Homo sapiens: one gene and its partners. The protein of the gene in region 6 purifies or fractionates together with the protein of the main gene of each other region. This does not show direct contact. Each region holds a gene or a part of one and is shown on either strand. Other genes may lie near its edges. The genes, in order: BOP1, ASPM, MCCC1, GCN1, OBI1, KLHL6 and ALMS1.

The links.
Region 1: the proteins of KLHL6 (region 6) and BOP1 purify together in Homo sapiens (affinity purification with mass spectrometry, with the first as the bait; one large-scale study listed by BioGRID). This does not show direct contact.
Region 2: the proteins of KLHL6 (region 6) and ASPM purify together in Homo sapiens (affinity purification with mass spectrometry, with the first as the bait; one large-scale study listed by BioGRID). This does not show direct contact.
Region 3: the proteins of KLHL6 (region 6) and MCCC1 purify together in Homo sapiens (affinity purification with mass spectrometry, with the first as the bait; one large-scale study listed by BioGRID). This does not show direct contact.
Region 4: the proteins of KLHL6 (region 6) and GCN1 purify together in Homo sapiens (affinity purification with mass spectrometry, with the first as the bait; one large-scale study listed by BioGRID). This does not show direct contact.
Region 5: the proteins of KLHL6 (region 6) and OBI1 purify together in Homo sapiens (affinity purification with mass spectrometry, with the first as the bait; one large-scale study listed by BioGRID). This does not show direct contact.
Region 7: the proteins of KLHL6 (region 6) and ALMS1 purify together in Homo sapiens (affinity purification with mass spectrometry, with the first as the bait; one large-scale study listed by BioGRID). This does not show direct contact.

What each region holds. Positions count from the first base shown.
Region 1 is NC_000008.11:144,284,209-144,289,050, reverse strand, and holds part of BOP1 (ribosome biogenesis protein BOP1), read left to right. Parts: intron 1-4,842. UniProt on the Homo sapiens protein: Component of the PeBoW complex, which is required for maturation of 28S and 5.8S ribosomal RNAs and formation of the 60S ribosome.
Region 2 is NC_000001.11:197,104,189-197,109,030, reverse strand, and holds part of ASPM (abnormal spindle-like microcephaly-associated protein), read left to right. Parts: intron 1-3,845; coding exon 3,846-4,842. UniProt on the Homo sapiens protein: Involved in mitotic spindle regulation and coordination of mitotic processes.
Region 3 is NC_000003.12:183,016,225-183,019,955, reverse strand, and holds part of MCCC1 (methylcrotonoyl-CoA carboxylase subunit alpha, mitochondrial isoform 1 precursor), read left to right. Parts: intron 1-2,618; coding exon 2,619-2,690; intron 2,691-3,731.
Region 4 is NC_000012.12:120,128,120-120,132,961, reverse strand, and holds part of GCN1 (stalled ribosome sensor GCN1), read left to right. Parts: intron 1-939; coding exon 940-1,036; intron 1,037-1,628; coding exon 1,629-1,777; intron 1,778-2,208; coding exon 2,209-2,316; intron 2,317-3,467; coding exon 3,468-3,686; intron 3,687-4,842. UniProt on the Homo sapiens protein: Ribosome collision sensor that plays a key role in the RNF14-RNF25 translation quality control pathway, a pathway that takes place when a ribosome has stalled during translation, and which promotes ubiquitination and degradation of translation factors on stalled ribosomes.
Region 5 is NC_000013.11:78,616,921-78,621,762, reverse strand, and holds part of OBI1 (ORC ubiquitin ligase 1), read left to right. Parts: intron 1-4,437; exon of another isoform or gene 4,438-4,640; coding exon 4,641-4,842. UniProt on the Homo sapiens protein: E3 ubiquitin ligase essential for DNA replication origin activation during S phase.
Region 6 is NC_000003.12:183,486,425-183,490,422, forward strand, and holds the end of KLHL6 (kelch-like protein 6), read right to left. Parts: 3' UTR 1,127-3,998; downstream 1-1,126. UniProt on the Homo sapiens protein: Involved in B-lymphocyte antigen receptor signaling and germinal center formation.
Region 7 is NC_000002.12:73,607,130-73,610,762, forward strand, and holds the end of ALMS1 (centrosome-associated protein ALMS1), read left to right. Parts: intron 1-1,345; coding exon 1,346-1,445; intron 1,446-2,438; coding exon 2,439-2,483; 3' UTR 2,484-2,787; downstream 2,788-3,633. UniProt on the Homo sapiens protein: Involved in PCM1-dependent intracellular transport. Required, directly or indirectly, for the localization of NCAPD2 to the proximal ends of centrioles.

The DNA of each region.
Region 1 (4,842 bases), on a different chromosome or scaffold from region 6:
GGTGGCCTTGGGCTTTCTGAGACTGCCACTGTACTGCCTTCTCCACCGTCCCTCAGAACCCCAAGGCCGGCGTCCCTCCTTCACTGCACCTGGGGCACGCTTGGGCTCTAGGACGCTGGTTTCCATCCCCAGTTGCGTGCCGTTCCCAGGAACTCTGAAAATCCACATGCCTAGGCCCTTCCCCGTCAGACGATGCTCGGGCAACCCTCCTGGCAACAGGTTGGGTTTCCTTGAGGTGGGGATTTTACTGCTTGGAATCCAGTGGCAGGACCCAGCTGAGGAGGGAGCTGAGCAGCATGGCAGGGCTCAAGCAGGCGGCATGGGGGCCCCAACGGAACCCAGCTGGGCCTGACCCCACAGGGCTTCAGGGGCCTGAGCAGCCGACGGGTAGAGGGTTTAACATTGTACCTGTTGCAGCGATGGTGGGGGAGGATGCACCCTACTCTTATTGAGAACAACAGGAGAAAAGCATAATTTAACTAAAACACAGCATTTGTTATTTTTTTTTATTTTTTATTTTTTTGAGACAGAGTCTCACTCTGTCGCCCAGGCTGGAGTGCAGTGGTGTGATCTTGGCTCACTGCAACCTCCATCCCCTGGGTTCAAGTAATTCTCCTGCCTCAGCCTCTCTAGTAGCTGGGATTACAGGTACATGCCATCACGCCCGGCTAATTTTTGTACTTTTAGTAGAGACAGGGTTTTGCCGTGTTGGCCAGGCTGGTCTCGATTTCCTGACCTCAGGTGAGCCACCACGCCCGGCCTATTTTTTTTTTTTTTTTCTAAGACAGAGTCTTGCTCTGTTGCCCAGGCTGGAGTGCAGTGGGGCGATCTTGGCTCACTGCATCTTCCACCTCCTGGGTTCAAACAATTCTCCTGTCTCAGCCTCCTGAGTAGCTGGGATTACAGGTGCCCACTACCAGGCTCGGCTAATTTTTTTTTGTATGTTTAGTAGTGACGGGGTTTCACCATGTTGGCCAGGCTGGTCTCGAACTCCTGACCTCAAGTGATCTGCCTGCCTTGGCCTCCCAAAGTGCTGGGATTACAGGTGTGAGCCACCGCGCCCAGCCCAGCATTTGTTACTCTAAACATTCTGGAAATCGTTTGTAAGGATTTACTCTCCCAGTAGTTTCGGTGTTCTGGAAGTTACGGCCTTGGCAGAGGTCCCCGTGATAGAAGCCAAGGAACCATGGCTTGTTCATTGTGTGCTAGCTGTGTTGGGTTGGCTTGTTTGCTGGGAAGAAAAGATTTAAAATCACACTTAATTCAGGCTTTAATTATACCACTAACATACACAGAGAAAAAATGATGTGCTGTGTTGGCAGTGGTTTGTAAGATTATGGACAACTACGTTACCCCTTCTTGAGTTTTTAAAATGATACAATACTGGGCCAGGCACAGTGGCTCATACCTGTAATCCCAGCAGCTCGAGAGGCCAAAGTGGGAGGATCTCCTGAGCCCAGGAATCCAGGTCACAGTGAGCTATGATAGAGCCACTGCACTCCAGCCTGGGTGACAAGCAAGACCCTGTTTCAAAAAAAAATTATGAGATAAAACATCCTGGAAAATAATGTAGATATTGTAGCAGCACCATTCAGTAGGGTGGAAGCTCCCACTCAGGGCCCTCACACCTAACCCGTGAGCACAGTTAGTGGTCTGGTGTACATCTTTCTGGGTCTTCTGTCCCTTTTTAAATTAAGGATTTACACATTTACATGTTAATGATTTTTTTATTAAATTCTTTCAGCGGGCGTGGTGGCTCACGCCTGTAATCCCAGCACTTTGGGAGGCTAAGGTGGATGGATCACCTGAGCTCAGGAGTTCAAGACCAGCCTGGCTAACATGGTGAAACCCTGTCTCTACTAAAAATATAAAAATTAGCTGGGCGTGGTGGCGCGTGCCTGTAATCCCAGCTACTCGGGAGGCTGAGGCGTTAGAATCACTTGAACCTGGGAGGCGGAGGTTGCAGTGAGCCGAGATCTCACCACTGCACTCCAGTCTGGGTGACAGAGTGAGGCTCTGCCTCAAAAACCAAAACAATGTTTTCGCATAATAACATATCCAAGTACTTGAAAGGTACTAGAGGTGTCTGCGGAGTCTAGGGAGGCGCCATCTTCTCTTCTCGCTGCTTGTCTCCTGGCCCCTGGAGCACCAGGTCCTCTGCACTGCTGAGTGTGTGCTTGTCCTGCCCATTGCCCTGCTCGGGTTTCTGTGACCGCGTAACTGGCTGCCCCATGCAGGGTGTTTTCCAAAGTACCGCTGTCTGTGGTCTGTGTGCTCCGTCATCCAGCAGGGCCTGAGGTGGCAAGGCCGGCCGGGCTGGTGGGGCGGTCCTCAGAGTTCCCCACGCTGCTGGCTGCCCAAGTCCCTGCCTGAGGCCCTGCCCTGTTGTGGCGCTCATGCACCTGCCCGCGTGTCCTGTGCTTTAGCTGAGGGGCCGAGGCCCTGCCCTGCCATGGCGCCCGTGCATCTGCCCGCGTGTCCTGTGCTTTAGCTGGGAGGCCGAGGCCCTGCCCTGCCGTGGCGCCCATGCACCTGCCCGCGTGTCCTGTGCTTTAGCTGAGGGGCCGAGGCCCTGCCCTGCCGTGGCGCCCATGCACCTGCCCGCGTGTCCTGTGCTTTAGCTGAGGGGCCGAGGCCCTGCCCTGCCGTGGCGCCCATGCACCTGCCCGCGTGTCCTGTGCTTTAGCTGAGGGGCTGAGGCCCTGCCCTGCCATGGCGCCCGTGCATCTGCCCGCGTGTCCTGTGCTTTAGCTGAGGGGCACCTTGGGCCCTGTCAGGGTGTTTTCAGTTCTAAAGTGTGATCCTCATGACTGGGTTTAAATTCTTCCAGGTCAGGAGAATGAATTGATGAGGTGGGGGTGCTTTCAGCTTCTTAGTGGGAACCCCTCCCTTTTCCCCCCTGTTCATCAGAAGCCACCCAGGCACCTTGGCCTGCTGAGCGGCCACTCCCTCCTGCCTGCCCTCCGCGCCCCTCTTGAATGGTGGGAGTCCTTTCCCATTGTGCAGCCCTGCAGGTGGAAACTCAGCCGGCAGCCCAGTGCTGCCTCCTGCATGTTCTCTTGGCTTCCATGAGCGTGGCCACGTGAGGCCTCCCAGAGTGCCGCCAAGATGGCCCCGTCATGCCCAGTTAGTGGCCTCAGGTTAGGCCTGTTTCTGTGTCATCCCGAAGGCAGTCCAGGGCTCCTTACGCCTGTATCTCCGCCACCTCCCACTCGCATCGTGGGTCCACGGGGCCGGGCCACCAGGGGCTCTGCCAGACACCCTCGCCCGCCACAGCCATCTGGAGGATTCTGCCCCCGATGCCCCTGCCAGTGGTTGTGGGTCCTCAACCCAAGAACCCTTCCGTTGAGCGGCTTCTAGAATCAGTGCCCCTTGGTTCTGGGAATTCACACCACAGTGACACAGCAGCTTCTCCTGCTGCTAAGTGTCCTTGCCCTGCAGTGGGCGCACCTGGGATTCTGTGGTCCTGGCCACGGCCACTCGTGTGGTCTTGCAGATGGTTCATGGGCCTCGGTGGGTTACTTGGTAAGTGAGGGTAATGTCTGCCTGGCAGCCCCTGAAGGACGAGATGATGTTTTTGCTAATTTCTCTTCTGCCACGTGCTTCTGCCTGTCCCCCCACTCCCTCCTGTCGCTGTTTCCTCCACAGTGGTTGGCAAGACGTGGCCCCTGTGGCCTCTGCCTCGTGCATCTGAAGGACATCCCAGCCACAGCATCACATCAGACTGGAACAGTGGCGGGATGGGGCTGGGCATCAGGCAGCATGCATGTGTCATGTCACGGACACCTCAGGGACACACGAAGTCAGGCAGGGCGAGGGCCTCACTCCCCAGGCCGCCTAGCCCTTGGTGGGTATACCCGGCCCCGATGGTGCTGTGAAGAAGGGGCTGTGTGACTGGCATGGGAGGGAGCTGCGGCTTTTGTTCATCTCTGCCATCCTGGCAGCGATGTGGCTGATGGGTCACCTTCAGAGAGCCTCCTCCATAAATCTGATTCCAAGTGTGTGCCCCAAACCAACCCAGACCGGCCCGGGGCGTCCTGCGGAGAGCCCCACAGTGGGAGGCCCTTGTAGCGGGGAGCCCGGTGACTGCTGGGGGTCAGCTGCTGGCGGCCCCTGTGGAGACCTGGCGACCTGCCAAGGGCTCCGGACCTGCCTGGGTGGACCCAGGGTGGGCGTGCTTCTGGCTGCAGGGCCGGGCCACAGGCTTCCCTCTGGCTTTCTGCCCTCAGGCCTTTAGCATTGACATGCACACGACCCTGCCTCCTTTCTAAGGACTGTGTAGAATTACGTGGCATTCAGTGAGCAGCTGCACGTGGTGTTCTAGGGCACCTTTGGATGCTCAGGTGCTCCTGAGGGGTGTGCCAGGGAACGAGTCTCCTACCCTTCCCTCCTGGCTCCTGTTGCTGCATCCAGGCAACTACTGTTTCCAGTGCTGAAGTCTCTTTCCAGGATGTTCTAGACATATCCAAACTCGCACAGAGTTTTTGAATGGTGGTTTCTTAAGAGAAGGGGCAGCCGTGCGCTGTCTCAGGATGGTTCTGTCAGGGAGGCCATGGCTCTGGTTTGTACAGTGCTTGGTGCCCGTAGAGTGCCTGGCAGCTCGGCCTCAACAGCTCCAGTGGGTGGGCAGTTGCAGGCTTTTGCTCTTACAGTTGACCTGACAGTAACATGCTGTTTCTCACATGTGCACACCATTCTTGGGGAAAATTCCAAGAGAATTTCTAGGTCAAAGGATAAATGCTTTTTTTTGTTTGAGACAGGGTCTCACTCTGTCACTCAGGCTGGAGGGCAGTGGTGCGATGTTGGCTCACCAAAATCTCAACTTCCTGGGCTCAAGGGATC
Region 2 (4,842 bases), on a different chromosome or scaffold from region 6:
TTAGCATATTCATCATCTCAAACATTCTTCTCTGGACTTTTTTTTTTTTTTTTTTTTTTGGAGACAGGGTCTTGCTCTGTCGCCCAGGCTAGAGTACAGTGGTGCAAACACAGCTCACTGCAGCCTCAATCTCCTAGGCTCAAGCCATCATCCCACCTCAGCCTCCCAAGTAGCTGAGACTACAGGCATGTACCACCACACTCAACTAATTTTTGTATTTTTTGTGGAGATAGGGTCTCACTAAATTCCCCAGGCTGGTCTCGAACTCCTGGGCTCTAGTCATCCTCCTGCCTTGGCCTCCTAAAGTGCTAGGAATACAGGTGTGAGCTACTACACCTTGCCAGATTCTGTTTTTTAAATTTGTATAGGACTATTTATCTTTGATGAGTTTTGGCAGTTTCTAATTTTCGAAGAATTGGTCCATTTCATCCAAGTTGTTGAATTTACCATATGTATATACAAAGTATATCTTTAATATCCTTTTGATGCCTGGGTAGTCTGTAGTGATATTCCCTTTTTCATTCCTGATATTGATAATTTGTATCTTCTCTTTTCTTCTTTGTCAGTCTTGCTAGAGTTTTAACTCTCTTGATCTTTTCAGTGGACAACCCTTTGGCTTCATTGGTCTCTGCTCAGTCTTTATTATTTCTTGTTTTGATTAATTTTGCTTTTCTGTCTATAGTTTCTTTAAGTATAATCTTGAGTAACTGATTTGAGTCCTTCCACTTTTAATGTAACACATTAATGGTATAAATTTTCTTCTAAATACAGGTTTAGCCACATACTACAAATTTTGATATGGTATTTTTTTTTCATTCAGTTCAAATAGTTTTTAATTTCTCTTGAGGCTTTTTCTATGATTTAAAGTTTCAGAATATGTTATTTACTTTCTAAATGTTTGGAGATTTTCCTATTATTTTTCTGTTAGTGACTTTTTCTTCAATTCCATTATGACCAGAGCACATACTGTGATTTCAATTCTTTCCTATTTGATAACCTTTAGTTTATGATCCACAATATGGTCTATCATGGTCAGAGGTTGGTATATCTGCAGGCCAAATTTGGCCTACCATGTGTTTTTATAAATAGAGTTTTTTAGAATATGGTCACAACTATTTGTTTATGTATTATTTGGGAGCTGCTTTTGTACTACAATAGCATAATTGACTTGTTGCAACAGAATTGGCCCACAAAGCTGAGATATTTGCCATCTTGGCTGTCATCTCCATTCTGCTATTGTGCCATACCAGTGAATTTTTATTTTGGTTAGTGTGTTTTTCGGTTCTACTATTCTCACTTGGTTCTTACTCATATCTTTGATGTCTTTACTGAGACTTTTTATCTTTCCATTAGTTTCAACTTGTTGTAGCATTTTTACTTTATCTGCTCTAAAGTCGTTGTCAGTTAATTCCAATTCCAGTATCTTTGTCATCTCATCATTGGTGTCTATTGATTATCTTTTCTTGTGAGAGTTGAAATTTTTCTGTTATGTTGTATGTCAAATAATTTTTAATTGCATTCTGGAAATTTAATGTTATGTTATCAGACTCTATGTTTTGTTTAAATCCTATGGAGAATGTTGATATTTTAGTTTTAGCAGCTAATTCACTTGATTGGGTTCAGGCCACCTGTTCTCATCAGCCTTCCATGAGCGTAGCTTCAGTGACAGTTCCTTTTTGAAAGCCTTTACAGTGAGTGATATTTGTATCATATCAGTTTCATTATGTAACACCCAGTAGCCAGTCTGGGATCTAGATTGTGATCTGTATCTTATTCAATTCTTAAAGTCTATAGCCTACTGTGGTCTAGATTCACATTGTGCACAACTTGGTGGTGAACCTAGAAATTCATAAACAACATTATCAGATTGCTTCCCTGAGCTCCCCAGTCTCTACCATCTCCCTGGTACCCTCTAGTTCCTCAGGGCTGCCTTGTTTCATCATCTGACCAGAAAACTGAAGATTGAGTTACACTGCTCTACTGCATTCTTTCCATGACTGCGCCCATATCTCAAGCAGAGAAACTCTTTTGTATGAGGAAAAACAAAGTATGGCACAGGTTATAGTTACTGGGAGAGATGAAGAATTGGGCTGTTAATGCACTCAACCTGCTGCAGATATCTGTGGTAGAGTAGAAAGAACATTTGATTTTGGTGTAATAATGTAGATCCTAAGATCAATTATTTTTATTTGCTGTGGGACTTTGCAAAAAGTTTTGTAACATTAGTGTTCCTTTCTTTAAGTGAAGAAACAATGCCAACTTAATGTATTTTTGTGAGAATTAAGTGAGAAAATTGTATGTAATGTGTTCCTTAGTAAAAGCTATTTATTTTTAAGAATTGTATGACAATGGTGAAAAAATTGCTATTGTAATAAGCAAAACTGTTAGGAGAGGAGATGATCATATCTTCCATGTTATATATCAACATTGATTAACATTTCAGTAATGGAGTAGTAATAGTAATGTAGAAAAAGTGATTATTAAAGTATAAAACAATCTGTACACACTGATTCTTCAATTTCTTAGTTTGAGGATTTTACATAGAAATATCTGTTGGGGGTGGGTGCTCAAAAGAAAAATAATATCTGAATTTCTGAGTACTATTACTGCTTTACTTTGCCCTAATTTAAAGCAAGTTAATACTTTATGTAGAGTTTATTGTTTTCAAAATACTTTTGTACAAATAAGTTTGACTGTTGTTGGATAAATATTTTGACAACTTGTGCATCTCTTCTTGGTAAGATAAAATGTATACAATCATTTCCTGTCAGGTTGAAGAGTATGAACAAAACCTCAGGTAACATTTAGTAGAGGAAGAAGACAATAAAACTTACAGGAAAAGGGTCAGGAAAAGGGATGTGCATGTTCTCCTTAAGCTTCCTCACCCATGGATAGGTATGCTTAGGCCAGTGATAGCTGCAAGCAAACTCGATACTGCTATAGGAGAGCGAGGTACCCAGTCCCTATATTACTCTACTTATATGCGAGAAAAAGTAAGATGTAGTAGAGAACAACCTCTCCATGCCACCCCCAATCTCAGCAATGTTTGGAGTGTTTGTACAAAGGAATGGTCTTATTGCTAAAACATCTAGAACTTGACTACCATTAGCCTGGGACCATTTTAGATACCAGCAACTGGAATTAGCTTGAGAGTTTGTAGCTCTTTTTGTTGAGCCAACATACAGTTGGATTAGCCATTGTAACCATGGCTTTTCAAAAGACAAAAGTTTTGTCATTTCTCAAGTCTTTCTAGAATTCTACTTTTAAGCCATGTATTTATAGTTCCTAAATTTGGGAAAAGGAAGTAATTTTATTCTTAATGAAAATAATGACTCTGAGAGTGATCTGGTTTATTTATTCCTAAATTCCTATATTTATATTATCAGGCCTGTAATGTGATAATGCAGGATCCTTCACATAAACAGTTTCTAGTCATTATAAGGTAGCTTAGAAACATTGAAGTAAGGGGACCATATAAGGCCCAGAAATAAACTCATAGGAAATTACTTAGAATCAATAGATAGCAAAGAATATTACTATAGTTTTATTTTGACTCTTTTGCTTGTAATATAACATAAACTTGCTTATGTTTCTTATGATTCTGGCATACAAATGCAGTATTTAAATATAATGAAGATTTGGATGGATTTCTGAATTGGCTACAGGTATATCAATGTAAAACCTAAACTAAAAACAAAAGAGACAAATATCTCACAAAAATAATTAGTTTTCTAATTCAATGTGTTTATTTTTAAGCAGAATGTTAGAAAAATTAGTATTTTGAAAAGTGTTAAATATAGAAAGCTATGCCTATTTTACTTTGTGTCCTTTCTTACCTTTTCCAGGGATATTGGAGAAGATATTCCACTAGACAAAGATTTCTGAAATTGAAATATTATTCAATCATCCTGCAATCTAGGATAAGAATGATAATTGCTGTTACATCTTATAAACGATATCTTTGGGCTACAGTTACAATTCAGAGGCATTGGCGTGCTTATTTAAGAAGAAAACAAGATCAACAAAGATATGAAATGCTAAAATCATCAACTCTTATAATCCAATCTATGTTCAGAAAATGGAAGCAACGTAAAATGCAATCACAAGTAAAAGCTACAGTAATATTGCAAAGAGCTTTTAGAGAATGGCATTTAAGAAAACAAGCTAAAGAAGAAAATTCTGCTATTATCATACAATCATGGTATAGAATGCATAAAGAATTACGGAAATATATTTATATTAGATCTTGTGTTGTTATCATTCAGAAAAGATTTCGGTGCTTTCAAGCCCAAAAGTTATATAAAAGAAGAAAAGAGTCCATACTAACCATCCAGAAGTACTACAAAGCATATCTGAAAGGAAAGATTGAGCGCACCAACTATTTGCAGAAACGAGCTGCAGCCATTCAATTACAAGCTGCTTTTAGGAGACTGAAAGCTCATAATTTATGTAGACAAATTAGAGCTGCTTGTGTTATTCAGTCATACTGGAGAATGAGACAAGACAGAGTTCGATTTTTAAACCTTAAGAAGACTATTATCAAATTTCAGGCACATGTAAGAAAACATCAACAACGACAGAAATATAAGAAGATGAAGAAAGCAGCTGTTATAATTCAGACTCATTTCCGAGCTTATATTTTTGCCATGAAAGTTCTAGCATCTTACCAGAAAACACGCTCTGCTGTCATTGTGCTGCAGTCTGCATATAGAGGGATGCAAGCCAGGAAAATGTATATTCACATCCTCACATCTGTTATAAAGATTCAATCATATTATCGTGCTTATGTTTCTAAAAAGGAATTTTTGAGCCTAAAAAATGCTACAATAAAATTGCAGTCAA
Region 3 (3,731 bases), 470 kb from region 6:
AATACCCATTTACCTAATTTATGAAAAAGACTGCTGTTTTTGAAGGCAGGCATTTGCATCAAAGTACAAATAATCTAAATTGTCTTTTTATGATTAAAACTGAGCATTCATTAAGCATTATTCAAAAAAGCTGGTTTTGAATGTTAAATTTAATAGCAGCAAATTTTTCATGAAATAATGACATTTTCTTTTAGTGTACGTAGTTGCATCTGCGTTAATGTAAAAGGCTGGTATTGGTGAAGAACAGTACGGTTTGGTGTTGAATGCAGTATATAATTCACAGTTGCAGTCCATACTGTCTGAGTCAGTTCAGGCTGCTAGAACAGAATACCATAGACTGGGTGGCTTTTAAACAATAGAAATTTATTTCTCACGATTCTAGAGGCTGGGAAATCCATCAAATCACCAGCAGATTAAGTGTCTGGTGAGAGTCTACTTACCGATTTCATAAACAGCCATTTTTTCTCTGTGTCCTCACGTGGTGGAAGGGACAAGGGACCTCTCTTCAGGCCTCTTTCATAAGGGCACTAATCTCTTTCATGAGGCCAGATCCCTCATGACCTAATCACCTGCTAAAGGCCCCACCTCCAAATACCATCATCCTGGAGGTCAGGATTTTAACAAATGAATTCTGGAGGGATATAGACATTTAGACCCTAGCACATACTGATATAACATCAAATGGTGATAGATCAGTATCCGTAGTCTCCTTTTATATACTTGAATACAGTAGAGTCTCCTCAAATACACTTAAATCATAAAAACTCAACTGTATATGCTTGGAACAAAAAAAGAAGAAGAAGAAAATAACTACTTAAATAGTGTGGGTGATTTCAGCCACTATTCTCGTTTGGAAATATTTACCCCAAGTGGGTATGAGCTAGGAGACCTGGATCTGCCTTTAGCTCATTTGATTTCAGTTCCCACAGGCCTCTCATAGTGCAGGCATCTCTGCACAACTCTGTTAGTCTCCCACTTAGTAGCCATGTTAACCAAAACGAAAGTGAGACCATATAGGATCTATGAGTCCATTTATATGTATACAAAAGAAAATAGAAATCTCTTTCTGGGGTTGCTAATAAGTTTGATTCTGTTGCATGAAGATTGTCTTCACATTTACTACACAGGGCTCTGAAGACTTCAAACACACTTACTATACTTAGCCCTAGACAACCCCAAAACAAGAAAACCAGTCAAGACCCTCATCCCTCTTCCCTCTCTGGGGAAGACATTTAAGTATATTAGTCCTTCCCTACTGGCAATGTGTCTTGTTTCTACATTCTTGAAAAAAATGAAAGGATTTCAAAATACATGGAGTATATTCATGTGATTCAAGTAAAACTAAGTGGTTTTGTGGGTGGGGACAGGGGACTAAGCAGTGCTACCCATGGACGACAGTGCCAGCAATGCCAGATTGACCTGTAGGGCTCTCATTTGACTAGTGCATTTGGGCTGTAGGCCTCTGATTTGACCAGTGCATTTGACCTGTAGGCCTCTGATTTGACCAGTACATTTGGGCTGTAGGCCTCTGATTTGACCAGTGCATTTGACCTGTAGGCCTCTGATTTGACCAGTGCATTTGGGCTGTAGGCCTCTGATTTGACCAGTGCATTTGACCTGTAGGCCTCTGATTTGACCAGTACATTTGGGCTGTAGGCCTCTGATTTGACCAGTACATTTGACCTGTAGGCCTCTGATTTGACCAGTGCATTTGGGCTGTAGGCCTCTGATTTGACCAGTGCATTTGACCTGTAGGCCTCTGATTTGACCAGTGCATTTGGGCTGTAGGCCTCTGATTTGACCAGTGCATTTGGGCTGTAGGCCTCTGATTTGACCAGTGCATTTGACCTGTAGGCCTCTTATTTGACGAGTACATTTGGGCTGTAGGCCTCTGATTTGACCAGTGCATTTGGGCTGTAGGCCTCTGATTTGACCAGTGCATTTGACCTGTAGGCCTCTGATTTGACCAGTGCATTTGGGCTGTAGGCCTCTGATTTGACCAGTGCATTTGACCTGTAGGCCTCTGATTTGACCAGTACATTTGGGCTGTAGGCCTCTGATTTGACCAGTACATTTGACCTGTAGGCCTCTGATTTGACCAGTGCATTTGGGCTGTAGGCCTCTGATTTGACCAGTACATTTGGGCTGTAGGCCTCTGATTTGACCAGTACATTTGGGCTGTAGGCCTCTGATTTGACCAGTACATTTGGGCTGTAGGTCTCAGATTTGACCTGTACATTTGGGCTGTAAGCCTCTGATTTGACCAGTGCATTTGACCTGTAGGCCTCTGATTTGACCAGTGCATTTGGGCTGTAGGTCTCAGATTTGACCTGTATATTTGGGCTGTAGGCCTCTGATTTGACCAGTGCATTTGGCAGATGGCACAACCACATGGGCTCTACTTCTGCTCTGTAAGTTTATATACCAAATCTGTGGACCACAAAGGACCTCTGTGTTGTTTTTTTTCTTTTTATTTATGTTTTATTGTTTATATTCATGGTTTGCAACATGATGTTATGAGTATATATAGACAGTAAAATGGTTACTATAATGAAGCAGATGAACATATCTAGGACCTCTGTGTTTTCAAATATTAACCTGTCACACTGAATCTCAAGGTGTTTGTCAAAGCTGGAGACAAAGTGAAAGCGGGAGATTCCCTCATGGTTATGATCGCCATGAAGATGGAGGTAAGGAAATCATGAGTTCATTTGCTATGAGGACTTTGGGAGCAATCATACCTAATGGTTCTTTTGCCTTATTTTGTAAGTTAATACCACCTTAAATATGAAAAGCCATGATTGACGAAGCATTAATTGTAGGAAACAAAACCAAACTATCCTTCTTGTAGAAAAGAGTTTTACTTTAACTTTGTGAAATTGCACCTGTCATTTCTGATTCTGAAATTAATGAAATTATCAATAGCTTGGAATCAGGCGATAATCCAACTGAATGTTAACTGTTGGTATTTTCTAAGATAATCCAACTGAATGTTAACTGTTGGTGTTTCTGGAATGTTAACTGTTGGTATTTTCTAATGTTAACTGTTGGTATTATCTTGGTTCTAAGGCCGAACCAAGGATGCCAGGCATCAGTTTCAAAGTGAAAACCGCAATCAAATTAAATTAGCTGTTTAGGTTTTTAGATGGTTCAAATGGTAGGTCAGTGATTCTTAGCCCTGGCTGAATATTGCAGACAGTCCTCAACTTACAATGGTTCAATTAAGGATTTTTCAGCTTGACAATGGTGCAAAACCATACACGTTGAATATGCTCCTCAGCTTACATTGGATTTATCTGGACCTGACCCCATCGTAAGTCAAGGAGCATGTGTACAGTCACCTGGGGAGATTTGAAAAAATTCTTCCCCAGACCCATTGAATTGCAATCTCCAGGAGTAGAGCCCAAGGATCAATACTTTTGAAAGGCTGGGCGCAGTGGCTCATGCCTGTAATCCCAGCACTTTGGGAGGCAGAGGCAGGCGGATCATTTGAGGTCAGGAGTTCACGACCAGCTTGGCCAACATGGTGAGACCCCATCTCTATTAAAAATACAAAAATTAGCCAGGCATGGTGGTGCATGCCTGTAATCCCAGCTACTCAGGAGGCTGAGGCAGGAGAATTGCTTGAACCTGGGAGGCAGAGGTTGCAGTGAGCCGAGATCTTGCCACTGCACTCCAGCCTGGGTGACAGAGCGAGACTCCGTCTCAATTTAAAAAAACAAACAACAAGG
Region 4 (4,842 bases), on a different chromosome or scaffold from region 6:
AAAATAGATGAAGTTGGAGAGAGTCGGTGTCAGAGCCAGCTTTAGCTTGGCACCTGGGCTTCTGCTTCGAGCTCAGAGGCCCAAACTGCTGGCAGTCCATTCTCTTACCCTCTGAACCTCCACTCAGATTGAAGGTGGCAGTTCAGGGTGCCAGCCTGGCATTAGCTTTTTGGGTTATTGAGTCCCTGGTTGGTGGTTTGTTTTGGGGACATGTTGAGTTGGCACCTGTAATAAGGAACATAACTTAAAATCCTCTCTTGGTATTCCATAGTTAGCTGGCCAGGGAGGAGCACGGAGCCGCTCGCGTACCTGGCTCTGATTTGAACAGGAAGTGCTTGCCTTTCCTTATCTTCCTTGGCTTGATTAGTGGCTTTAGTTTGACTTCCTAGGATGAACCCAAGTAATTTCGGTGGCAGTGGGGCACTCATGCAGTAGGGAGATAGCAGGAGTCATTCTGGCCACAAGATGACACAAACTCTGTGGGAGAAAGGAGCTCAGAGTGGCCGTCTCTAGCCGGCTTCCCTGGTGGCTGGGGGCAGGTGCCTCCCCTCCTGCCCCTCCCGCCCCTCCCTGCCTCACAGGGCTGTTGATAGTAATTGAGATAATAAATATGAAACATTCAGCCTTCCTAAGAAGAAAGATGCTATGTAAATACAGTTATTACTGCTATTACAAGGATGATTACCATATGCATACACACTGGGGTTTTCTATAATTAAGTGAAGTGCTGGCTGTGTAATGTTTAACTCCATACCAGTGGCAGCCCAATCTGGCAGGGGAGCACGAGTGCCTACAGGAAGGACTGGATCTTGAGTCTCTGAGTTGGCTTTTCCACCTTCTTTGTTGCTGTCCATCCTGGGCTCTAGAGCTGCCTGCCTTGGTTCCCACACAGCTGGTGTTGTTCCCTGCACCCCCTCACTCCCTTCTCTTCCCTGTCAGGACAACACTCGCATCTCCTCAGCCGGGTGCCTAGGGGAACTGTGTGCCTTTTTGACTGAAGAGGAGCTTAGTGCCGTTCTACAGCAGTGCTTGCTGGGTAAGTACACTGGAGAGTTCCCCTTCAGGGACCTGGGCCTCTCAGCCCTAGCGAAGAGTCGACGGGCATCTCCCTCCCTCCCTCAGAGGATCTTTTAGCAACTGGACTGTCCTTTCCTTGGGAATCCAGCAGTTAAAGCAAAATCCAGGCCAGGGGTGGTGGCACTCACCTGTAGTCCCAGCTACTCAGGAGGCTGAGGTGGGAGGATCAGTTGAGCCCAAGAGTTGAAGGTTGCAGTGAGCCTTGATCACGCCCCTGCACTCTAGCCTGGGCGACAGAGCGAGGCCCTGTCTCTAAAACAAACAAACAATACTGAATTTGCAGTGGTCCCGTAGCCCTGAGTGTCTCTGCTCAAAGAACACAGCTGTAAGCCCGGAGTGGTTCATGAGCAGGCTTTCCTTACTTTCCTTAATGTGCCACTTTGGGGAGCTTCTGCCAAGATAGCAGGGAGGTCCATGTGAATGTGGCCTGGAGTTTTCCTTGTGCTCTGGGTCAGCACACTGGTCTCCAGCGGGGTGGGCCCATGGGCCTCATGGGTGCTGGGGACATGCTGTAAAATACCGGTTGATCCCAGTCGTGTCCTTCCACCCAGCGGACGTGTCCGGCATTGACTGGATGGTTCGGCACGGGCGGAGCCTGGCACTTTCCGTGGCTGTGAATGTGGCTCCTGGCAGACTTTGTGCCGGCAGATATAGCAGTGATGTTCAGGAAATGATCCTGAGCAGTGCCACGGCGGACAGGGTAAGGCATTCGGGCCATATCCCATAGGCATAGGCCACATCCCATAGGCAGCACCTTGTGGACACAGCGCGGGTGGACCCCAGACTGGGGCTTAAGAAGCTTGGGTCTAATTTTACCTTTGTCAGTAACTTGCTGTGCCCTTGGACCAGCACTTGATCCCTTTGGGCCCCAGTTTCATCATCTAAACAAGGAATTTGGGTTGAAGAATCTAGATGCCCCTTCTGGGTCAGGTCTTGGATCCCTGTTCCTGGGAACCAGTGACTGTACTCATCTGCCTCAGCCGGGGCAGCCTGCCTGAGAGCTGTCATGGTGTAAGGGGTGATGTGGTGGTGATGTAGTGGAGGGTCCTGGAGATTACTAGGAACTGGGGTTTTCCTGGCTCTGGGGAAGGGGTGGGGGGCCTCCCGTCTAGCGCTGTCTGTTCTCCACAGATCCCCATTGCGGTGAGCGGGGTCCGGGGCATGGGCTTTCTCATGAGACACCACATCGAGACAGGCGGAGGGCAGTTGCCGGCCAAACTTTCCAGCCTGTTCGTTAAGGTGAGTGGGGGCCAAGCATGTGTTTAAGCCCTAACACCTGGCTTGTGAGGAGGTCCTAGGATCAGAGACCACCAGCAGTGCGCCCTCAACTAGTTGTGTGCTAGTTCTCCGTGGACGGCCTCCAGGAGATCGCTGAACACTTAGGGATGGAATGTAGGGGGTTTCTGTGTGTGCTTTACACTGCAATAAAGCCTAACTTTTTGTCAGATTCTCAAATTGACCCGTGACTCTGAATCAAGTTAGGAATCGCTATTTTAGGCATTCTTTCTAGGCACCGTAGTTTTGTAAAATTAGATACAGACCTGGGTTCCCATCTTAATACCTCTCTTTTCCCTCCTTCCTCTTCTAGTTGGCCCAGCACTTCTTGGTGTGGTTACTGTGCTATGTGCCAGGCCCTAGTTAGGAAAGCCAAGGAATGTGCCAGCAGGGCTCCTGTGGCCCGTGTGATATGGCGTGCTTCTGAAGCATTACTGTGCACAGAAGTCAGAGCCAGGGTGTATTTTAGTGAGATGGGGCCATGCCTGGTACTCTAACCAGCTCTCAGCAACAGTGTCAGTGGTGCTGTGCATGGACCTTGCCTTGAGTAATGAGGTTCCCAAGAGTGACTGCCTCCCCCCGCAGCACCGGGAACCCACGGAGTTTCTGAGGGGCCTGATTCGATTGAGCCTCGTCTGTGATGACATCAGCCTGCACCCGCTTGTTCACTTGGCATTATCCTGAAGGTGTAGAGATGAACAAGGCAGACAGGATCCCTGGAGCCCATGGGGAGGACCCTGATATAGATAAGATTGGCAGGGGGCACCTCTAAAGGATGACATGGGAGCTGAGACCTGCAGGATGGGAAGGAACTAACCTAGAGAGGATCCGGGGCAAGCACGGCCCAAGCTGTGGGACCAGCCAGGGCAGAGGCCCGAGGCCCTGGGATGTTGGAGGAAGTAAAAACGCATGCGGGCTGAGAGTAGTGAGCAAGGGGAGAGTGGCATGAGATGAGGGTGCAGGAAACCAGGGTCGAGTCATGCTGGGACCCTCCCACAGGAGCAGGGGGGGTCAGTGTTCATGCTGTAGGGAGAGTGTCGAGGCTGGGCATTTGGGCTGCTTCAAGGAATAGATGACATGCCTATCCAAAAGCCTGTTTGTGGTTCTTTTTACAGTGTCTGCAGAACCCATCCAGCGACATCAGGCTGGTGGCTGAGAAGATGATCTGGTGGGCAAATAAGGACCCACTGCCTCCCCTGGACCCCCAGGCCATCAAGCCCATCCTGAAGGCTCTTCTTGACAACACCAAGGATAAGAACACCGTGGTCAGGGCCTACAGCGACCAGGCAATTGTCAACCTCCTCAAGATGCGGCAGGGTGAAGAGGTGTTTCAGGTGGGAGCCTGGGGGGCCTCACCAGGATGTGCTGTGAGCATTTGTCTTTCAGCTCTTCTTCAGCATGGAAATATTTAAACCACAGGCTCTTCTCTGCCACCACGGATGTGCTAGCTTTCAGGAGCAGATTAAGATTTGGGTGACTGGGGCCGGGCGCGGTGGCTCGCGCCTGTAATCCCAGCACTTTGGGAGGCTGAGGCGGGCAGATCACCAAGTCAGGAGATGAAGGCTAACACGGTGAAACCCCGTCTCTACTAAAAATACAAAAAAATTAGCCAGGCGTGGTGGGCGGCTTTGTCCCAGCTACTCAGGAGGCTGAGGCAGGAGAATGGCGTGAACCCAGGAGACGGAGGTTGCAGTGAGCTGAGATCATGCCACTGCACTCCAGCCTGGGCGACAGAGTGAGACTCCGTCTCAAAAAAAAAAAAAAAAAAAAAAGATTTGGGTGACTGGCCCAGTACCTGAAAACATACATTCCCATGGTTTTCAGACTTCTTTCCGAGCAGGGCCCTTTCTTCAAATAAAATCTCACATGACACCCAAACAGACATAGCAGATCCCAGGAGAGCTGCCCAGAGGAAACCCAGAGTTGTGTTCACTCAGTCCCCAGCCCCCAGCAGCCTTGAAAGCCCAAAAGCTGGCCAGCCGCGGTGGCTCACGCCTGTAATCTCAGCACTTTTGGGAGGCCAAGGTGGGCGGATCACCGGAGGTCAGGAGTTCGAGACCAGCCTGACCAACATGGAGAAACCCCGTCTCTACTAAAAATACAAAATTAGCCAGGTGTGGTGGCGCTATGTCTGTAATCTCAGCTACTCGGGAAGCTGAGGCAGGAGAATCGCTTGAACCTGGGAGGCGGAGGTTGTGTTGAGCTGAGATCGTGCCATTGCACTCCAGCATGGGCGACAAGAACGAAACTCCATCTCCAAAAAAAAAAAAAGCCCAAAAGCTGCAACTCCCACTGCCTCGTCTCATGAAAAGCATGATGGGGCCAGGTGCGATGGCTCATGCCTGTAATCCCAATACTTTGGGAAGCCAAGGTGGGAGGATCACTGGAGCCCAGGAATTCAAGATCAGCCGGGCAACATAGGGAGACTCTGTTTCTAAGAAAAAGGGAAAAATAGAAAAGCATGATGAGTGTTTTCATTGGCTTTCCCTG
Region 5 (4,842 bases), on a different chromosome or scaffold from region 6:
GACATCTTCATCCTTTTCACCACCACTTTTCTCATCCATGTCAATAAGTTTGCCTCTACAAAGTGCTTCTGGCATATCTAGAATTTCTTGAATGGACTGACATTGTTGTAATATTCCCACAGTCAGTGATTTCTTCCATAACTACATTTACATTTGATTTCAATTTCACTTCCAATGTTATCATTGTTTATTTCTTTGTTACACCTTCATCTTTGTTGACCAGTTCTGTCGTTTTATTAACTGTTTTTGTGAAATGTCATGCGGGTTTTTTACTGGGAGACAAGGAGCAGCCCAGCTGCACACTTTGCTGTCTGTATGTTAACTGAAAAACAGGTAAATGCACAGTGACTAATCACTGACTGACCTTGAAAGAAGTGACTTGATGGGTCACTGATCATGAAGCACGTCTATTATTTATGTAGTGTTTTTTGAACTGAAAAGCTAGAAGTGAAGGTTTTACTTCATGCAGTTACTCATTAATAATGGTGTGGTAACTGAAATTTGAACCATATTGTTGGGTGACTTGTAAATTAAACCATGGTAACTGAAATTTGTGCATATTGGAACCATATAAAGCAAGGATATCAACACTGAAAACCTGTCAGATAGGCCACACCACAAAAGCTGGTCCAGGTCCAAAGATAGCTTTCGCTTTGTTTCATTACCTCAGCTACCAAGTGAGGGAAACATATAAAGTCAAAGTTTGATGAGGCAAGTGGACTGACTTCCCCAATGTCCCCCTTGTTCCTCCTCAAGAAGGCATTTCTGAATTTTGGCAGTCTTGGCCACCCACTGGGCTTGCTGCATTTACCCATTTTGTTGGAATTGCCATTGAGAACCAGAAAGGCAAAGTGAATTGCTCAAGGATAGTAGCGTAGCACTAGAGCTTATTAGTTTTTTGGTACTCAGGTGTGGTATTCTTTTACCACATTTGTTTTCTTCAAACACGTCCTGTTTTTCTGTGTGATAGACTATGAGAAAATATGGTCTTAGGAACTTTTTGTTGTTAGAGATGCTCTTTAGTTTAGTTATACCACCTCAAAGGTCATACCAATAGGACTTCCATTTCTCTTTTACTAGGGACAGAAATGATCTTGTATCTCTTAGAGCTATTTGGACAAGGGGAACTGGCATCCTTTTCTCTCTCATCCAGAATGTATGTATCAGTTAATATTGCAAGCTGAAAAATCCTTTAAGCTTCTGTTAGATTCTGGCAGAATACAGTTCCGATATCAATTGTAGCTCCCAAACTGCTCTGCAGTGTTTTTTCTGGCACAATGAAGCCTTTGGCCATCACTGCTACTTTGAAAATCAAAGCCTTTTGGTCTCTAATGGAATGTTTATAAAAATACTCCATTTTGAAATTTACTCAAGAAAAGGAGGAAGTATGGTAAATGATATTAGAAATCCCTCCGGCTTGCCTTGGCATAGCTTCATTTAGTGTTGTATACTCCAAATATCTAGAATTAGTGTGAATACAAAAGTATTAAAACCCAAAGATAAATAAGCTCATGTCCTTCTTCTATGGAAGTATAGCATCAGATACTTATCCCTAATTGTTATTTCTCTATAATAAGGTAAATTGCCCTTTGCCAAATTTAATATAGTTATCTTGGATAAGCTGAAAATTTCCTGACACATGTCAAAAGTCTCATCTATTTGCAGTCTTACTAAGGTGAAGTTTTTTGGGGTGGAGCAGTATAGAATGTCAAGCCTGTAGCAAAAAAGGCTGTACTGTACATATGTCAGTCTCTGTTGCTTTCCTGGGTGTCAGTGAAATAAAGTAAACAGTCAAATGTAGTAAACAAAACATGTTTACTTTAGTAATACAGTGACTGTCATAATACTTAACATGTAAAAAGAAGGCCAAGGACCTTTAGCTTATCCTGTGGTGTCAACCCTGTCTCAATGTAAGGCACTAGTGTATCTTAAAGTAAGAGAATGACTTTTATTCAAGAAATACACAACAGGCAAGTGCCGTATACCAGGAATTGTTCTAGGAATCTGGCAGTGAATATAAGACAAACTACCTGCTCTCCTTGAGCTTCTATTCTAACGTGGGAGAAAGAAAGCAAATAAATTACATGAATTGATTAATTGATCAGTTGCATGGCTTTTAGTATACATTTCTGTCAGTCTGCCAACCAGCACAGGTCCCTTATTAGCATGGGAGAAGGGCCTGATCACTGAAAGTATTATAGATTTATAGAGTATTGAAAGGAAACTTAAGGAAATTGGGGGCAGTGGCCTTTTAGAAAACAGCCTAACTCCATCAGTGACTTCTGCTTGCTTGTGCCTCTCATATGTGATCTGCTACTGGCCTTTGTTACTTCTCTCTGAAATAACACAAAAATTATGTTTAGGGCTCTCATTGACTTCAACTCCAAACCATATGTTACTTCTTTTAAAAACATAATTTCTAAAAAAAAAAAATATATAGAGAGAGAGAGGCAAATACAGTATCTTAAGATGATACTATATTTGAAATTCCAAGCTAAAACCCTGGAACAAGAAGCTGGTAATATTTTGGGAAGCATTCTTTATTTTTGAGTAGTCTTTCTGTGTGTAGGCCTCTAAGTTCCCAAAGATATCCTTTGGTAGCAACTGACTTACTATGTAGTAGCATTATTTGATTTTAAGTCATTTGATTTTTTTATCTGAGGAGATACCTTTATTATAAAAAATTTTACTTGAAGAAATTTATCTTGATAAGCAAATGTAAGGCTGTCACTTTTGCTTATTGGCATTAAATAAACATACTACAGTTTTTCCATTTAAAAATGTGGGTTATTTGATTATGCCAGAGTAGTTACAATCAAGAACTAACAAACATTTGTACTTAATGTACTGAAAGGTCTTTGCCCACTTTTTAAAAGTTCTCTTGCAGAACTACAACTCTGTGAAGTACTACATTTATAAGCCAAAACATTTTTAACAAAGAAGAAAAATTCCCATCATTCATTTAACCAAATACAGTAGTAAACTTTGTCTTTAAAATGGGGAGGCTTGTTATTATAGTTGCTTTTGTTTTTGTTATACCTGTGGTTTTTGCTGTGTTTTTTTAGAAGTTGAAGGGAGCGTGCTCTCTCTGGGGGTTCAGTTAATTGCAGTGAGTAAATCAATATTCAGCAATCATGTCTTTTAAAGCCCTTTCTAATCTTGAGATTTTATGATTCTATATTTACCTTTGCCTCTGCTTTTTCCTTCAGTGATAAGAGTGCAGGGATTATGTAGGGGTTGAGATGGGGAATGAATTGGGCTAGTGGTTTAGGAGGTGATGGGCATTAAGTGGGAGTTGAAAACATGTTGTGGTTGATTCTAAGAGGGGCAATTGCTATTGGCTTCTGCTTTTTTTGTAGTTTTTTTTTTCAATACTAAATACATGTTCTTAATTGTAATTATTTTTCAAATTAGGGGAAAAAAGGAAGAAAAAGATAAACCCAAAGATAAAAATAATTTTTGAAAGTCACCTTCTCATAGCTTCCTCCAAACAGACAATCCCTTAATTCTTAGAAATGGGCCAATATATAAATCATCAAAAAGATGATTAAGAATAGGCTTTGAAAAGAATTTTGGAGGAGATAAGGTATTTTTCACGGGATTATGTTATTTATTGGCTCATAAGTTTCCTGAAAGATAGAATTTATTTTTGGTGATAAGATTGAATTTAAGGTAGATATTTTATGTCCCTTGGAGCTAGACAGTCTTTTTTATCTTTTGTGTTCCCAGCCCCAAATATACCACCTAACCTATACTAGGTACTCAAAAATTGTTTCCTGAGCTTAACACAGTACTCATTCTTGGTGGAAATAACAGCAAGATAATCCCGGTGTAAAAGGAGTAGACTTTTTGTGAATAAGGGAATTCTTTTTCAGTCACTCTCCAAAATGTTCTCTTTCAGAAAGTGTACAAAAAAATTTTTTTTTTTGCCTAGTATATTGGAATCACAAGCACTGACTTCATATTTCAAAGTTGAAAGAAATGAGATAGATGTCCCACACAGCTGTAAAATGCCAAAAATAAGTAGTGCTGACATAAATTAAAGGCCAGTGCTCTGAAAAGCCACAGAAAAGCTTCAGATCAAGGGTGGCTATAATTGAAAGGGCCCAAATAAGTATTTAAAACCACCCCTCCTGGGACTGCTAAGATTTCTGAATTTCAAATTGGCATTTTATGTTTGACAAGGTGACATTATATAAGAAATGTATTGTAAAACACTGCTGTATGATAGGAAAATGATTGAATGTAAATATTTCAAGATGTAGACCACTGTTCAAATGTTATCATAAATCTTTGCCATTGTTTTAGGGGATAACTCTTCATGCATATATGAGCTGAATTGATACAGCCAGCTCTTCGAGGGGAAATCATCAGCACATTTCTGCCTCTCTGCTACCATAGATCTGATTTAACCACAAAAATATCCTATTAGGTTTTGCTATTATTATCATATGTTTATTATTATGTAAGTGGGGAAACCATTTTTTGAAAATATACATCTGGCATTTGCCCTACTCATTGAGTGGTCTGAAATGTCACTGTTAGGTGAAATTAGAATAGCCTGGGACAGTTTGCACTCTCAAACCTTGAAAAGAAAAAAGCTTGAGTTATAAGATTAACTATCTTTCCATTCTTTGTAGGTTTGGAAGGTTTGCAGTTGCTGCTCTTCAGTCCAAAGTAGAACAGTATGAGCGTGAAACCAATCGCCTCAAGAAAGCCCTGGAACGAAGTGATAAGTATATAGAGGAACTAGAATCTCAAGTTGCACAGCTAAAAAATTCAAGTGAAGAGAAAGAAGCTATGAATTCCATTTGCCAGACAGCACTTTCTGCAGATGGCAAA
Region 6 (3,998 bases):
AAATCCCCAGGTGCCAGTAAACAAACATGGAAGTGAAAAACAGAGTGACTGGTAAGCAGCCAGGCCAATGGTGGGGAGACTGGGGAGGGTGGGACTGGACCTGGATTCATCCCCAGCACCAAAGAGTTTTCAACTGTGGCCACATGCAGGAACGGAACATAAGGCATGGGCCTATGGAGGGCGGGAGAGAACTGAGATCCTGTATGAAGGCTGCACGTCCAGTGAAAAGGAGCTGGTCCAGAAGATGCCATACACCAGCAGGGAGGAGCTGGTGCAGGGGGAGGCACTAAGAAAAGCTGGGCAGATGCCTGGCCCCGGCCAAACTGCCCAGACATGAGATTATCACTTAGACCCAGCGGGGAAATTGGAAGGCTCAGCAGCAAAGTTAAGGTCAAAACTCCGTTTGACTCACAGCTGGTGCACTGGCACTCAGATCCAGGGCCCAAGATCACTCCAGAACATTCCCCACCAGTGAGGAAGCTGGGTCTGTGATTCCCAAGGGTTTCCACCAAGAAGTCCTAAGGCAGAACATCTACCTCTGGGGATGCCCAGAGGGGAAGGTCTGAAGCTATTCATGGAACCCCAGATTTCTTTAAAGCCTCTGATTTTCCTTTTCAAATACACAGGAGTCTTGCATTGTAACCAAAACAAACTAAATTGATAACAAGGTTTCCAGTGATTAAAGGGAAGTCTCATACCCCAAGTTACACGTGCCCCAATTTGAGAAGCACAGACCAGGGAGGGCTTCAGAGACAACACAGGAACAATGGTGGACGCAGGCTAAAAGGTCAGACCTGTAATCAAAAACCTAGAAGGGGGTCTCCTGTAAGAAGAGCTGAGGCCAGGCAAGAGAAGAGTCACGCAGTTTGCATATGGGTTGGTAAAAGCTTGCTCAGCGAGGCAATGCATCTTTAGGGAGGGAAAATCTGTCTACTCTTTGACATTCTATAAATCAAACCTGGTGAATTTTAACCTATGAACTTATCTAAAGTCCCATGAACCAAATGAAACGTTTTAAATTTCCACCTTCTAAATTAATTTCTATTCAGACACCACTCATTTATATAAACTAAAAACAGCAAAAAAAAAAAAAAAAAACTTCATGATTGTATATAACACATTTGCATCTGTTCTGTGCATATTTTATTGAATAAATAAAAATTTTATTGGTTTGGTTTTTAAAACCTATAAACAATATTCTTAGTTTGATCACTTAAAACATACAACTTTATGTAACCAAAATGCTTAAAGGATTTTGTTCACTGAGTGTTGGCTATTTATACCTATACATATGAAAATCTGACCTGTCAAAACTGGTTTTGCAGTAGCCAGATTTGAGATATATGTGGATTTCTAAAAGGTTAACTTGTCAAATTATGAGATCTAATACAACACCCAGGTATTAAGGGAAAAAATGATTTTGCAACCCCAAGTTGGGACTTAACATAAGAAATCCTTATGGTGTTGCCAACGTTAAAAATTCTATTGAGCACTTTCATTTTTCAGAATAAAACAGGATAAGCAAATAACTCACAACAGTACCTCATAGTCTTCTATAAATAGCTAAGCTATACTTTACAGCTATAAGAACGTGATATTTGTATTTCCCTGAGAGCGTAGTTTGCTTTGAGTTCAAGGGCATGGTGTATGTGTATATGTGTGTTTCCCGAAGCCATTGAGACCAGAATAGATGAAAGCTAAGACGAGAACATGAATCTGTTGGTGTTCTGATGAGCTTAGCTCCCTGCCTGTTTCAGATCAACCTTGGCAACTGGAGTCCCTTAACCTCATCTACAGATTCCGCTCCACCAAAGACTCTGGGCCACCTTCCCTCTAGGACAGGAGACCCAGCTGAGCAGCTCAGAGGCCCCACAGTAAGTTGGCCCAAATGCTGGGCCTGCTCTAACTTGTGCCTCTGCTCTAAGAAGGGGATTCCTTCCTTAGTTCCTTGCCTAGAATACTCCCTTACCCTTATTCTCCCTCACCCTTCTTGGGACTAGAGCCAAGCTCACAAACTCCAGGGCCTCCGATATCATTTTCCAGACCTGCATCCTTGGAACCTGACCTCCTCCTACCCCATCTTCTTCTTCCCAGCCAGGGGTGCTCTGTCCACTCACAGGCCCTGCCTCAGTCTCCAGTCTGCTGTGCCAGAACATCCTGCCATGTCCTGCCTGAGTCCGAGGGTTCTTTGTCTCTGGGTTTATTCTCAGCTTGGCTTTCCCCCTGCTGATGGTGTGGGTTATAACAGTTACCTTCCTGCAAATGTGTTCGTCTTTATTTCTTGAAATGGATTTTAGATTTTAGAAGTTCTCATCCTTGGCTGGTGCCTAGAAGCTAAAACCCTGATGACTATTCTTAAGTTTCCCCCAAATGACTTGAACTTTCTTTCTCGAAGAGCTACAGACTGGCAGCTTCATATACAGAACCCTAGACCTTCTAACCAGGTGTATCTGTTCCCTACCCATGCCATTATTAGGAATCCCTATTTCTTGAGTGTCAGCTACATGACATTTTCCACAATTCACCTGCATATCTGGTGTTGTAAAAAATCATAAAGAGTGTTTCCATGATTCATTTAGGTATTCTGAAGTAGTCCAGAAACTTGGGTCCTACATTTAGAATCAGGTTTATAGCACAGAAATCCCAAATCCTCACTTTCCCAGCATAGGGTTGACCTGCTGATGGGCTCGAAGTTTGCCTATGGGTCTTATCAAAGGACCGCCATCCCCTCCCTGACTAGGGGCGCTGTCTTTTTGAAGGGAGGCTCCCTGTGTATGCCAGTACCATTGTCATTGGATTTCCTCTCTGGAAGTTCCTCCCTGCAATAGTCTTTGGAGTAAGACTGACTTTTCCTTCACAAATCAGTTCACAAATGGTTCTGGTGGCGATCTCAAAGAGACAAACATGTAAGCCATGGCCACTGGTTGACTTCACTGCACAGCTTACCACCTTGACCCCCTGAAAGGCAATCAAGACTTGGATCCAGCCTCCTCACTTCATACGCATCTCATTTTTAGCTAACTTGAAGAAAATAAAAACAAGAATATTAACTGGTGGCCTATTTACCTGTATTGAGTGTCTAGCGTGGAGATTTGCCATTCGTGGGTGTCCTCAAGGCTTGACAGACATGAAGAACTCCATGAATGTTTGCTGAATTGAACTAGATTACACTGTTACATTGCTTCAGTTGGGAGCTTCCTGATGGTTATTATAGTGCTCATGAGTCAGCAATAGTTTGTTCTAAAATTCCACAAATATGTTTCTATTGCCCTGTGTTACTTTCCACAGCAGAGAGCTGAACTGTCACGCTTCTAAGGCACAGAGCATTTCACACACCAACATACATTTATATTTATCTTCAATAATCTGGCATAAACAGAAATCTCACCTGTAATTTTTCAAGTTTTTAAAATCTGTTTCAAATATTAGCTTCTTCTAACCGTGACTGTTTAATGAAAATTCAATTCACTATCAACTCTAATAACTAACTTCCCAAACTGCTGAAAAGAACAAGCCACACCGGATATGAAATAAAACTCTATAAAGAGAATTGAAATCATATGATGAAAATAAAGTCCATTGGGTAACGCAGTTACTATGTTGTTATCATTGTTGCTTTTTAAATACAGCATATGAAACAGGATCTCTTAACCTGTTTCTCCAGCTTGGGGATTAGAATGAATTTCCAGTGAGCTCATTTGAAAGCTGTAGCTCTTACAGTGAAGGACAGATTCTGTTCTTTAAGTCACAATTGAGCTACACTGATCAAAAAACCAAGTAGAAGTGCTTTTTAAAAGTCTTGAAAACGAAGGCTTCAGGAGGATGGGGTATCAGGAACGTGGACCTAAATCACTGTGTAAAAACTAGAAAGTGTACCATCAAGGAGAATCTGTCGCTCCTGTGTAGGCCAGCTGTGCTCAGGTGTTTACTTTTTTAATAAAACAGTAGTTTGAGTCTCTAGAGACATCTTGTCTATATTGCAGTACAACTGGTGAACA
Region 7 (3,633 bases), on a different chromosome or scaffold from region 6:
ATTTTGCAGAGACCTGCATAACACACACTTTTTTCCCTCAAATTGTTAATCATACTGCATATACAGGTTTGTGTCTTGCTTTATTTTATTCAACATTATGTTGTGAACCTTTCCTATGACACTAAAAATTCTGAAACTTTTGTTTGGTATACATGAAACATACTTGTAACATATACATTCCATTATACTTCATAATCTATTTAACTGTTGTTTTGTTGGAAACGTATTTACAATGAGAGTGCATTTATCAAATGCACATTTGTGTTTCTCCCAACTTAAAATCATTGCCACCCAACCCCTGCTAGAACAGATCCCATGTTTTTCACATGGCCACAAGATCCTCTCTGCAGCCCACCTCACCCTCACCCCCATCTGTTTCCCACCTATTCCTTTACGCTCCTTTTTGGGAAGCCTCGAGTCCATTTTTACCAACACTCATTTTCCCCACCTTGAGTGTCTTCTGTCCTTCTCCCCATTCCCTTTCTGCTCTTATCCATCATTATTATTTTTTTATTATTATTATTATTTTTGAGATGGAGTCTCACTTTATCACCCAGCTGTAGTGCAGCAGTGGCTTGATCTTGGCTCAGTGCAACCTCTGCCACCCAGGTTCAAGCGATTCTCCTGCCTCAGCCTCCTGAGTAGCTGAGATTACAGGCATCTGCCACCATGCCCACCTAATTTTTTTTTTTTTTTTTTGGTGTGTGTGGTTTTAGTAGAGACGGGCTTTCACCATCTTGGCCAGGCTGCTCTTGAACTCCTGACCTCGTGATCCACCCACCTCAGCCTCCCAAAGTGCTGGGTTTACAGGCTTCAGCCACTGCACCCAGCGCTCCTATCTATTCTTAAGACCCAACTTACCTATAATTTCCTCTCTGGAGCCTTTCCGAACCTCCTTCCACCAGACCAAGTTTCTTCTCCTCTAGAACATTTTATAGGTGTGACCATTTTAGTACTTTTCCATAATTTCACTTGTGTTTCCAAACACAATAGTAACGCTGTTCATTATCTTATATTGAAACAGTCCATTTTTGCATGTAGAGCAGAAAGTAGAAGTTCAGCTCTCCTTCATTTATCTCACTCCTTTCCCCCCTTTATCCCACTTCTTTCCACATGTAAGCACTATTAGGATTTTATTGTGTTTGTATTTATCTCCCCTTCCAGATTGTGAGCCCCGGGCTAGGGTTTTCTGTGCTGGAGTATCTAACGGGGCCCAGGGCCTTTCTGAGAGGGATGAGCTCCTGGAGAGTGGGAGGTATAGGGAGGGATGATGAGAGGAGATCTCATGACTCTGCACCCTGGTAACCTCCCCGATTTCTGTCCTTTCACTGGTGCCATTTCTAAGGATTTATGAGCAGCTTCCAGAAGTACAGAAAAAGAGAGAAGAAGAGAAGAGAAAATCAGAATATAAGTCATACCGGCTGCGAGCCCAGCTATATAAAAAGGTCAGTGGGTCCTCTGTCTAGAGTGGGATGGATCAGGTTTATTGGCGGAAAGAGAAATGGAGAAAACACGTTGCCTGTTGAGTGTGAAGTCAGAATGAACCGCATTTGAGGAATGAACTTAGAATGCACTGGACCAGTGTTGAAATTTGGAAGAAGGCATCTGTAATTAGACTTCAAATCAGGTTTAACTCCCCATCCATAATGGTGTAAGGCCCTTTCCATGCATTCGTTTGCAGTGAAACCAAATTTCACACACAGGAGTTCATTGACATATCATGGTAGAAATACCAGAATTATCAGGTTTCCATTCCAGAGTCCCAGGTGGTGATTTCATGCCCCTCATTGGTGAGTCAGATACCTTTAGAACTGTTAAACTGGAAAATGTGTAACTGCGGCATAAGAGTTGTCCACTTGGATGGTCAGAGGCCTCCAACTTGTCACCATGCCCTGCCCATTGTCCCAGTAGAGTCAGCGTTGCTGCAAGTCCAAGAACCTCACGGGGCAGGGTTGGTGTTACCAGTTAATTCTCTGAGAAACCAGACCGGCTCCTATGCCTGAAGGGCCATATACTTCACTGTAGTTGTTTCCTTCTCACCCTGTCAGTCACCAGACTGATGTGGGATGGGAGCTGCTTCTGGAGCAGGCCCCAGAACCCAGGCGGGTGCCTCAGGTGGAGGCCCCAGGCACCACACCACCTGTCTGGTGTGTCAGCATCGCAGGGCCAGGCCTCTCCTTATGCTACTGTATGTGGGAACTGATGGATTATCTGTGTCTCTATAGAAATAATAGATATTGATTACAGATCCTCTTTCCTGAACCTTTCGTGAAGTATTTTTTATATGACGACCATAGTTTCTGAAGCAGAGTAAAATGAACAAGATTTGAATAGGACCACACTGATTCTCCTTGGTGACATGGATGCAGGGAGGAGAGGCATCTGCCTCTGATGGCAGTAATATCTAACTTCTTTCCTGCCTTTCTTTTCTTCTACAGAGAGTGACCAATCAACTTCTGGGGAGAAAAGTTCCCTGGGACTGACACAAGTTTATTTTCCTCAGAGCCTTGGAATTCTATTTTATGAACCTAGAGAAGCAGAATCCTTACTTTTGTGAGTCTGGTTGAATAAAGCTTATTCTTTGTCCATGTGTATTTTAGAAATAGTAACTTCTAAAGAGTCTGGAACAAAGTGGTGATTAAAATTCCTAATGGTTTGGGAGCAATACTTTCTGCATAGTGGCCTTGTCCAATGGCCTGTGTGTTACAATGATATGATCATTTCTCAAGAATAAGTCCCTTTTTGTATGTGTTTTTATACTTTTAGAAAATAAAAACTTTAGATTAACTCATAGTAAACAATTCTTTCCCATCTGGAGAGATGCAAGGAGCTATGCATTGTCTCCACCGAGGTGTCTAAATGCATCAGTTGAGGGAAATGGGCTCTTAGAAGGAAATGTAGCCTGTATCTTTAGAAACACAATGTGCTGTAGTGGGAGCACTGTTGTGGGCTTTGAGGAGACGGTGTCTGGTTAGATGCCCACCGGGTGCACCCAGAGACTGCAGCAGGAGAGGTGTCTTGGGTCCAGAGCCTCCTTTCAGCCCCAGTCCAGCTCCCCCAGGGACTCTCTGTGTAGGCTGGGGAGAAAGGCCACTAGCCTTGGCTGATGGATCTTCCTCCACCCACACTCGGTTTTGGGATTAAAGCCTCAGACCATTTATCATTACACGTGAAACCAACACTTACAACATAAAGGACAACTTGTGAAAAAGATGAGTCAATGAATGAGATAAAGCATTTAACCCAGTAACTGGATCAGAATGTAACAGGATTTTTTTTTTTTTTTTCATGTGGCCTGGAATTATAGCTAAGGCCCAAAGTAATGGAGGAAGGTTTTCAACAGCCTCACTCTAAGTTCAGCAAACCCCAGTACAAAGATTGGCAAGGGCCAGTCATCCACCGAGAAGGCTTCCTGGGAGGCTGGATCCAAGAGCAGGCCCTGCCCTCAAGCACGGTTCAGAGCTTTCAGATCCTGCCCCCTGGGCTCCCTGCCATGAAGAGGACACTGGGAAAAGAACCCATGGTGCATGAGGTCAACTCATAGTTCTTCCCTTTCTTGCTGGGCAAGGTAATGAAGCACTTTTGGCCAATTTACCTGTAAAATGAGAGGGTTAATACCTCTAAGCCCCTCTT